Homo sapiens: one gene and its partners. The protein of the gene in region 2 interacts with the protein of the main gene of each other region in a pairwise test. Each region holds a gene or a part of one and is shown on either strand. Other genes may lie near its edges.

Region 1 (3,657 bases), on a different chromosome or scaffold from region 2:
TAAAATCCAAGACAGCTGGATAATGGCTGAAAGATCAAAGCATAAAATGGAAAGAAAAAAAACAGAGAGAGTAATGCACCAAAGAAGAAGAAGGACAGGAATTATAATTCAGTTAATAAAGTGGTGGCTAAAACATAATGGCAACCAAAGGAGCAAGCTGGAGACTGGATGGTCCCCTGGAAAGTCAGCAAATCACTGAGGCCCATGTGGATATATAGCAAGTGATCCAGGCCTTCAAAGAGCCCCTTCTTCCTTCCTGGCCAAGGGTTGAGGCCAGGCGGGGTGGAGCTAGAATGGAAGCCAGGGAGGGACTAAAGGGAGAACAGGCCTCAGCCAGCTAAGCAGAGGTGAGGGAGCAGAGAGGAAGCTAAAACTCCATTCACCTGCAGAGAAAACTGCTACTCTTATTTAAACTTTGTGCCTTAAAAATCTATATAAATAAAATAATATAATAACCCTTATCATATAAAATAAAATACTTATATATAATGTGTACTATAAAATAGTATCTGCATAATTCAAAATTTTGAAGCATATATGTGTACGTATTAAAATCTCATAAATGTACAACACAAAGAGTGAACCGTAACGTAAATTGTGAAGGCCAGGTGTGGTGGCTCATGCCTATAATCCTAGCACTTCAGGAGGCTGAGGCTGAGGATTGCTTGAGGCCAGGATTTCAAGACCAGCCTGGACAACACAGTGAGATCCCACCTTTACAAAAAAAAAAAAAGCCAGGCATAGTGCTGTGTGCCTTTAGTCCCAGCTACTTGGGAGGCTGAGGCAGGAGGATCACTTGAGCCCAGGAGTTTGAGGTTAGAGTGAGCTACCATCATGCCACTGCACTCCAGCCTGCCCAGGAGTTTGAGGTTAGAGTGAGCTACCATCATGCCACTGCACTCCAGCCTGGGCAATGGAGCAAGACCCTGTCTCTAAAACAATAATAATAATAATAATAATAATAATAGTAATATGTCAGTATTGGCTCATCAATTGTAACAAACATACCAAACTAATGCAAGATGCTAATAACAGGTGAAACTGTAGGCCTGGGACGGGAAGGGGAGTATATGGGAACTCCTTGTACTTTCTGCTTATTTTTCTGTAGGCATAGATCTACTCTAAAAATAACATCTACTAATTTTAAAAAAAAAGAAAGAGCAAGAGAGAGGATGCTTGACATCAGGTCACATGATAGTGGACCTGGCAGTGCGTAGCAACGTAGTGCCTTAACTGCCTAGGAGGTGAGGGAGACACTCTAGCCTTCAGTTAAGAACCTGGCTCCAACTACCTGGGCCCAAATCCTGATCCTGCACACACCCTTGACTAATTATGTAACCAGTTACCCACCCCTCTGTGCCTCAGCTCCCTCACTGGTAAACAAGAGTGTGGTAACAGTCTCTAACTCATCAGCCTGCTGTAAGAATTAAATGAGATAATGCACGTAGGCAACTTAGCACAGTCCCTAGAACACTGTAAGTGCCAAATAAATTTTGGCTGTTGTTAATATTAAGGAGGAAAGGCCCCAGAAAGAACCATGGGTCCTTGGAGGTGACTGAGCCAGTGGCAATAAGGGAGGGCTACCGGCCCAGCTCTCACGGCCCACACAGACCTGTTGGCACAACTCTTTGCCAAGGCAGGGGGTGCCTTTGTGGAGAGCACCTGCCTTCTCCTTACCTTCTCCAAGCCTGTGGACTCATCCTCCACATCCTTGGGTAGTAGGATGAACATGCTGAGATGCTTATTTTGAAAAGGAAGCTCTATGATCTTACAATTGATACTGTCAATGTTTCCCATACAGAACGTGGCCTCCATGTTCATCATCTGCACTGGTTTGGTGTCTGTCTGTAAAAGGGAAAATTTGGACTGCTTACTTTTCAATTTACACATGCATAAATATATATATATATATATATACACACACGCGCGCACACACACACACATATATACCCACATGTATATATACAGACACACATACATATATACCTACACCTATATATATACAGATACACATACATATATACATACACCTATATATACACATATACATATATATGCATACATACATATACATACATATACATATACACACACCTATATATACACACTTATATATACATACTATATATATATACCCCATACATATATACACACATGCACATATATACACATATATAGGCAAACACATAAATATATATGTACATATATATATATACACAAATTTGCTCTTGACACAGTGTCAGATTATTATGGCTTATAATTCATCATCCACTCAGATCCAAACTGTATTGCACTGAAACCAGAGACTGTCCTGTGAAGAGTTTGTGTTCCTTTGAAAAGTTATTCATATACTTTATAATCTACATGTTACACATTACATGAAGTATATATAATACTGTATTTGCATAGATCAAACCTTAAAAATAAGACTGTATGGCTGTAAATATAGGCAACGTTTGTTATTCTTTACAGATGCCTATGAGATCTTTAAACTATTCCTGGTGGAGCTGACTTGAAAGTAAATTCTACTGCAAACCCACATAACCATTTATACGGCTTTTCCTAATAAAATGCCTAATTTCAAAAACTGGCTGGGCACGGTGCCTCATGCCTGTAATCCTGCACCTTGGGAGACCACTTGAGGTCAGGAGTTCAAGACCAGCCTGGCCAACATGGTGAAACCTTGTCTCTACTAAAAAATACAAAAGTCAGCCAGGCATGGTGGCACACGCCTGTAATCTCAGCTTCTTGGGAAACTGAGGGAGGAGAATTGCTTGAGCCTGGGAGCCAGAAGTTGGTGTGAGCCAAGATCATACCACTGCACTCACTCCAGCCTGGGCAACAGAGCGAGACTCCATCTCAAAACAAAACAGAACAATAACAACAACAAACTTAGCACATAGCAGAACAAAACAATATTTGTTGTGACCTCTCTGTTTGTCTTTGGTTTGAATTGCCCACTCCCCACTGTACTGCCACCTACTCAGATCTGAGCTAATTAACAAAGTCTAAATTGAAGATAAGAACCTTGGTTTTTAGTCCCAAATGTGACATAAACAGATTCTGTGGCCTTGAGCAAATCACTCAATCTCTCCAGGCCTCAGTATTCTTGTCAGTAGAATGAAGAAATTGTAAATTCAGAATAATGGTTACCACTGGGGAGGAAGAAAGAGGAACAGGACAGTGGAGTGAGCAGTGAAGGGATACATACAAAGCAATGCAACTGTTGTTATATTTTTTCTTTAAAATATCTGAAATAATTAAGGCAAAATATTAAGTTCAAAAAGATGATTGATCGGTATATGGGTGTTCGTTTTATTATTCTCTATCATTTTCTGAATGCTTGGAGTATTGCATAATTTTTAAAAAGGAAAATGTTCTTTAAAATTATCTCTAAGTCTTTTTAAAATTATCTCTAAGTCCCTTTGAGCTCCACTGTATGCTTGGCTCTTTTTTTTTTTTTTTCAGAAACGTTGTGTTCAATGGTAAAGCTTAGCACAGCCCAGCACCAAGAATGGTGTGCAGCCGCAGCAGCAGGGACAGGCAGGTGACCCCCACAGAGCTTCACATGGCGAAGAGGATAAGGAAGGCGACCATCAAACAGAAGAGCCCCATGGCCTCAGACAGGGCAAAGCCCAGAATCGCATAGGAGAAGAG
Region 2 (3,657 bases):
TTTCAGCTCTGATATTTCAAAATACATTGGGTCCCTTAGGTTGAGCTAAATAAGAAACAGGAAACCTAACAGGTCTGCCTTTAGGATCTTCTCTCAATCCAGTAATAGAAACCCATACACCAACTTAGAAATTACAGACACTAAGATAAAGTGCAAACATAGGGGGTCCAGTAAGTATAACATGGGGTGCTGCTTTCTGACACCCACAGCATGAAATTCTATACAGCAATCCCCAGAGGTTTAAAGTCATGTTGGGTTACAAACCTAAAATCTGAGTTACTAAAACTGGCTTTTCTGACACATAGTTAAGGCCACATTCTATTCTTTGTTTTATGCCCAGCTGCGATTTGTTTCTGGGTCGAAAATGAACACACGTAATCAAGTTATAAGTAAGAAAATATGTCTCAATCCAGTTTGTTTTTCAAACAAAGTTAACAAACGCCCCTGGCATTTTGCTAATTTACCTCTACTGGTTATATTGAGGTATCAGAGGGACGCTCATAGGACCCACCTGAACCCTCGAAAAGCAGGATTGTCTCATTATTTCCCAAGACCATATGCGTGAAGACCTTGCCTACAACATCTATTAACTGTTTCCTAGGTATCAAGCACAATCCTACTCATAAATATATTACATAAAATATGTAATCTCAACAGCACCATGGGGTAGTATGCCATTCACATTCTCCTTTTACCCATAAGGAAATCCTACTAGCTGAGTTCGTGGAGCTGTACTATGAGCAAAGGCCAAGTCCAGCAAAATTCAGTAAGGCAGGAAGGCACCACAGAGGGGATAGAAGGAACTCCACTGAGAAGCCGGCAATGGGGCAAAGCTCTCAGCCCAGGAATGTTATGCGCCTGGGTTACAAGGATGGTGCCACCTGGGGTAGTTCAGAACTCAGGTGTTGAGGGAATAAGGAAGAAATTCAGTATTTTGAGTATCCTCTGCCTCTCAACATTTCATCTTCCTATTTGCCAGAGAAGCTTTTTACCAAGAGAAAGCAATGAGCATACAGTTTAATGATTTCATTCTTTTTCTTTTCTTTCTTTTTTTTTTTTTTTTTCTTGAAATGCAGTCTCAGTCTGTCACCTAGGCTGGAGTGCAGCAGCAGCACAATCTCGGCTCACTGCAACCTCCGCCTCCCAGGTTCAAGCAATTCTCCTGCCCAGCCTCCCGAGTAGCTGAGATTACAGGAGCCTGCCACCATGCCCAGCTAATTTTAGTATTTTTAGCACAGATGAGGTTTCACCATGTTGGCCAGGCTGGTCTTGAACTCCTGACCTCAGGTGATCTGCCCACTTCGGCCTCCCGAAATGCTGGGATTACAGGCGTGAGCCACCATGCCCAGCCGATTTCATTCATTTCTGTTACTTCTAATTTTGAAAGACATCATTTGGTATAGAAAGTTAGAAGTTGGAACTTCTAAGATTAAAATAAAGCAGTTAAAAAAATACAGCAATAGACAATCCATGCTGAAAAGTCACTTCAACTAAAAAAGTCACTAAACCAAAGCTCTACTGAAAAGGCCGAGACTGACTTTGCATTTCTCCACAACTAGGAAATTCACTAGAATTTTGTAGCACAGCAACAAAATTCAGACCAATGCTGAAGGCACTGACCTCAGTTCTATGTGTTTATGTATTAACCAAACACTAAAACTGACCTCTGTTATGACATCTCAGAAAAAAGCTAATTCTGGAGCTGTCCTTTAAAGACCGGGTGTGGTGGCTCACACCTGTAATCCCAGCACTTTGGGAGGCCGAGGTGGGTGGATCACTTGAGGTCAGGAGTTCAAGATCAACCTGGCCAACATGGCAAAACCCCGTCTCTACAAAAATTACAAAAATTAGCCAGGCGTGGTGGTGCACACCTATCATCCCAGCTACTGGGGAGGCTTGAGCCTGGGAGGCAGAGGTTGCAGTGAGCCGAGATCAGCCACTGCACTATGGCCTGGGCAGAGTGAGACCCTGCCTCAAAACAAAACAAAGCAAAACAAAAAACAAAAAGCAAACAAAAAAGCTGTCCTTCAAAGAAAACTCGATGCCACAAGGGCGAAAATGACAGGCTTACCGATTAATATTGGCATAGAAAATAACCATAAACAGTAGTAGAGAGAGGAATTTCACTGAGTTTAATCTGGTAAATATTGGACAAGAATTGAATTTCAAGGAGACTTTGCACATTGGGTCATGGCAGAGTATAAAAATCCCACCTCCACAGCACACCCACCCAGAATCCTTGGGCAAGTTATTTAATCTCATCGTCCTTCCGTTTCCTTTAAAATAAAAAAATTTTTTTAAATGTCAATTTAATGGGAATTTAATGTGAGGCCATGTGAGTACAACATTTTACATTTCCAGGGACTGCAAAAATGTTAGTTCCTTCCCCCATCATTTAGTTTGAAAATTCTTAGATAATTCTTTGCTGGTAAATTCCAACAGAATAGTTAGCACACAGGTTCCACACACACAAGTTCTAGAATCAGGAATCTGAAGCACCACAATGAAAAGAACATTTAACATCTTTTAAAAATGTTTAATGTTATCAGAAAGATGTTTGGTATATGTGTTCCATGCATGCTCCTGCTGGTTCTATTTGAAAAAGAAGTTTTTACAGTTATCTGTTGTCACCATATTGTAAAGGTAAAATCTCTACTTCTTCGCTCTGAATATTTTACTACTTAAGATTCTAAGAGGTTTTCAGTCTTTTTAAATATATTAACAGTCCATTCTGCCAAGAAATCAGTTTCTACACAGAGATAAAAACCAAAGATTAGTTAAATCCATTCCTCCCAATTAGAACGAGTATTGGAGTGATCAGAGAAAGAGAAGAGGGGGCTGTGTGTGGTGGCTCACACCTGTAATCCTAGCACTTTGGGAGGCCGAGGCGGGCAGATCATCTGAGGTCAAGAGTTGAAGACCAGCCTGACCAACATGGAGAAACCCCGTCTCTACTAAAAATACAAAATTAGCCAGATGTGGTGGTGCATGCCTGTAATCCCAGCTACTCAGGAGGCTGAGGCAGGAGAATCGCTTGAACCTGGGAAGTGGAGGTTGCGGTGAGCCGAGATCGCACAATTGCACTCCACCCTGGGCAACAAGAGCAAAACTCTTGTCTCAAAAAATAAAAATAAAGAGAAGAAATGTAATTGCATTTTTTGCTGTCCCCTCACCACCTCTTCATCACTTGGTCCAAGGAAACAAGAGAAAAGTGTTTTGATCACCAAGATGGAAAAGGAATCCCAATTCTTTTACTCATTTAATGCCTCAAATTTCACGTGTAAAGGGTAAAAACCTGGTCTACAGCTTATCTTGGCTAATAAGCTAAACACACCATGTTAATGAGAGAAGCTAACATTGTCAAATGTCATTTTGTTTTGCTACTTCCTGCAGAAGAATACTGTTTGTTTATCATATGTCAAATAGCTTAATAGAGATACTAACTTACATCTTTAAAATCCCCCACAACTATCTTGTGACTAGTTTTATTCCCTTCCACCTTATAAAACCAAGCCTCCATCCAATTAATCCCACCTGGCTAGAAACAGCTATTCTGGAAGAAATGTGATAAAGTTCTGCTTTTCGGTGAAGAGAGAAGAGAGTGTGCCATTCGAGCACTGTGAGTTGATCAGAGCAACCTGGGCTGGAAAGCAGGCA
Region 3 (3,657 bases), on a different chromosome or scaffold from region 2:
AATATGTAATTTGAGTTGGAATGCTGAACAGTCTATGTGTATGTAGAAAACAGAAAATAACTTGTCCAATCCAAGGGAGAATTTACTTTATAGCATGAGAGCACCAAAAAGTAAACAGAAAATTTTGGATTTTTATGGGAAAAAATAGAGATATCAAAAGTTGTTATTATTATTATTATTATTCGAGACAGGGTCTTTCTCTGTTGCTCAGGCTGGAGTGCAGTGGTGTGATCATGGCTCACTGCAGCCTTCACCTCCCAGACTCAAGCAATCCTCCCAACTCAGTCTCCTGAGTAGTTGGGACTACAGGTCCCAACTACTACATGGTGTGCGCCACCATGCTCTGGCAATTTTTTATTTTTTGTAGAGATGGGGGTCTCAGTTTGTTGCCTCAGCTGGTCTCAAACTCCTGGCCTCAAGTGATCCTCCCAAAGTGCTGGGATTACAGGTCTGAGCCACCATACCTGGGCTCCAAAGTTAATTTTTAAAAGTATGTCATCTACTATTTTTTTAAAAAGCTTTATTGAAGTATAATTGATATACAAAAAGCATGCATATAAAAATATATTTTAGTGGATTTGGACAGGCTGTCATAGTTTTGGTATTTTTTCAAACAGTTAAAGAAGGAATTTCTAGAATTTCCCATTATTGCACTTAAAGGTAAGGTGACAGGAAAACATTAGATCAAAATGGAATAGATCTTGTTTGCTTTTTTTAAAAAAAATTTATGAGGGAAACAGATTTTGATCTCAAATTAAAACTTTAAATAAATTTTCAAATAATTAGTTGGCCTTAAAAAGTAGGTAGCCCAGTATAGAGCAGACACTGTAGGTAACAGCTAAGAGAACAGGCAATGAAATTAGAATTCTTATGTTTACATCTCGACTGTATCAGTTACAGCTTTTGGGTAAACTACTTATCTCATTATTACTTGGTATCCCAATCTATAAAATAAGGATAAAACAGAAACTATCTCACAGGGTTGTTGTGAGGATTAAATAAAAAAAATTTAAAGAAAGACTGAACGTTGTGTTTGGCACATTTATGTACTCAATAAATATTAGCTTTATTAAAAACGTTAGTTAAGAGCCAAGAAAACACCTCTTCATAATTATTCTAAACAAGCCACAGGTACGGTACACTGTGTTTCTTTTCCCTTAATGTGCATTTGAATCACCTGAGGATTTTGCTAAAATGCAGATTCTTATGCAATCAATGGGTCTGGACAGGGTCTGAGATTCTGCAGTTCCAACAAACTCTCAGGTGATACTCATGATGCTAATATGGGAACTGGGATACGTGAGATAATTTTAGATGGTTTCCTCCTAATTTGTAATACAATGTGTCTCAACAGGGGGAATGAGGACAGGGGGAGAAAAGAAGGTGTGGATGAAATGTACAGATTTCATATGCCCCCTGGGTGATTCCAGTATTCTTGTCTCACCTGCCTCTGTCATCTTAAGAACCACCGATTTGATATTTCAACCTTTTATTCTTTTTAATTTTTTCTTTCCTTACTCTTTTCTCCACTTTACCCTTGTCATTGCTGCTGTAGACTGAAAAACTGTATTCATGCTTAGCTCTTCAATTAGCAAGACAAAAGCATCAAATTTGTCATTGTGTGTAATAGGACAGTGTATCTAAATGAGATTAGAAAAATTATTTATTTCTTAACATTTCTTTTTTAAAATATAAAGGTCTGAAAATGTATTTAACATTTTCTGTAGTTTTAGCCAAAAACAAACAAATAAGCAACAAACAGGCAAGCAAGTGACTCCGTGGAACATTTAGTAAAAGAAAACAAGGATGCGTTAGGTGCCATCCATACTGTCAAAGGAGTTATAATCTCACGAGGAGGGGAAAGGAGCAGTGGTTATTACAGAAGTGGCCAGAACCAAACAGTGTGACCACTTTAGACACACCATCTGGTCTGAAAGGCAGGACAGAAGGAGGGGCCATTTTTAAATGGCTTCCCACCCTACTAGCATTAGGCTATTAGAGACCCATGCCAAAATATGTGCTTAGCTTGACTACTATCTCTCTACGGCAAAGACCATTTTTATACTTTGGCTTGTATCCTCAGGGCCTAATATCACTCAGATCCACAGTATTTCCTCTGTAAGTACCTGCAGCTGTTGTTGATATATTTTATAGACATAATTCTTCATTTTCCAAAGTAGATAAGAGGAGCTTTGACTAATATAGAATCAGAAAATATCTAAATAAACTTAGCAAATTAGCAACAACAAATTCTCTTTAAAAGTACAAAATCAGGCCAGGTGAGGTGGCTCATGTCTGTAATCCCAGCACTTTGGGAGGCCGAGGCAGGGAGATCACTTGAGGTCAGAAGTTTGAGACCAGCCTGGCCAACATGGCGAACCTCTTCTCTACTAAAAATACAAAAATTAGCTGGGCGTGGCGGCATGCACCTGTAATCCCAGCTACTAAGGAGGCTGAGGCAGGAAAATCATTTGAACCTGGGAGGCAGAGGTTGCAGTGAGCCGAGATCATGCCACTGCACGCCAGCCTGGGCAACAGAGCAAGACTCTGTCTCAAAAAAAAAAAAAAAAAAGGTACACAATCATATGTGTATTTCTCAATATTCTTATTTTGTACTTAAGCATACAGAGTACTTAAATCCATTGAACTAAATAAAATTTCTACATTATTTGGTGAAGATGAAGGCATCTATGTGTGTATAAGTGGACAAGAAATCACACAAAAGTTGACTTAAACTGAAAGATTATTAATTCTATGATTTTAAGTTTTAAGGAAATCTAGAATTGGGACTTGAAATAGGAAGGCACATTGTAATAATAGGAAACAAGGCACACTCATTTTTTACCCATTTTCCAAACTTTTAAATGTTAAAAAAATTACATGTGAGATTAACAACACAATAAAAACATTCTTGGTAATAGGAAGGAGACTGATAATCACTGAGAGATTCTAGACATTTGTTTCTACTTAAGACAGTTAGAGAATGCACCTATCGAAGAAACAAACACAAACAAAACAAAAACAAATTCAAACCCTTCTAAATTAACTATAAGAATAATGTAATCATACAGCATTTATACTACATAATGAATTTTTTGTTACTTAAATATTTTGGAAGACAATTTTGATTTTCATATGCAAGAAAGTTTTTCCTCATCTGAGCATCTGCTTTGATAAGAAGAAAAATCCCATAGCAAATATTTTAATGTTAATACAACCACAGCTAGCAGCAATAGTCACTAGTCCTTTTATGACTGTTCCAAACATATACTCTGTTTTCTATTTCCAGTTGTCTAATTTGTCACTAACGTAATAACTAGGGAAACATCTGGCAATTTATAGTTCTTTAAATTATAAGATTTTTTTTCTGTGATTGAAATATTGCATTTTAGAGCTTTAATAGGATAATGGTAGTCACTTGCCAATTTAGTTGAATATTACCTTAAGTCCCTATAGATATTCCTTGATTTAAGATGGCTTTATATATTAAGCTATTAAAAAGTTGATTTTTAGAAGCTAAAGTTCATATTATGAATAAAACAAAATGTAAAGTGATAGCTAAATTTAGGATACAAATCGATCAAATTTACTGTTGCTTATCAGAGATTGAGTATACTGCTTTAACAAGCAGCTACAGTGAAAAGAAACACAAACCAC

What was found.
Region 1: the proteins of BASP1 (region 2) and SERPINB5 interact in a two-hybrid assay, tested with the Homo sapiens proteins (one large-scale study listed by BioGRID).
Region 3: the proteins of BASP1 (region 2) and AGTR1 interact in a two-hybrid assay, tested with the Homo sapiens proteins (one large-scale study listed by BioGRID and IntAct).

What each region holds. Positions count from the first base shown.
Region 1 is NC_000018.10:63,497,308-63,500,964, reverse strand, and holds part of SERPINB5 (serpin B5), read right to left. Parts: exon of another isoform or gene 3,462-3,657; intron 1,846-3,461; coding exon 1,678-1,845; intron 1-1,677. UniProt on the Homo sapiens protein: Tumor suppressor. It blocks the growth, invasion, and metastatic properties of mammary tumors.
Region 2 is NC_000005.10:17,269,479-17,273,135, reverse strand, and holds part of BASP1 (brain acid soluble protein 1), read right to left. Parts: intron 1-3,657.
Region 3 is NC_000003.12:148,700,893-148,704,549, reverse strand, and holds part of AGTR1 (type-1 angiotensin II receptor), read right to left. Parts: intron 1-3,657. UniProt on the Homo sapiens protein: Receptor for angiotensin II, a vasoconstricting peptide, which acts as a key regulator of blood pressure and sodium retention by the kidney.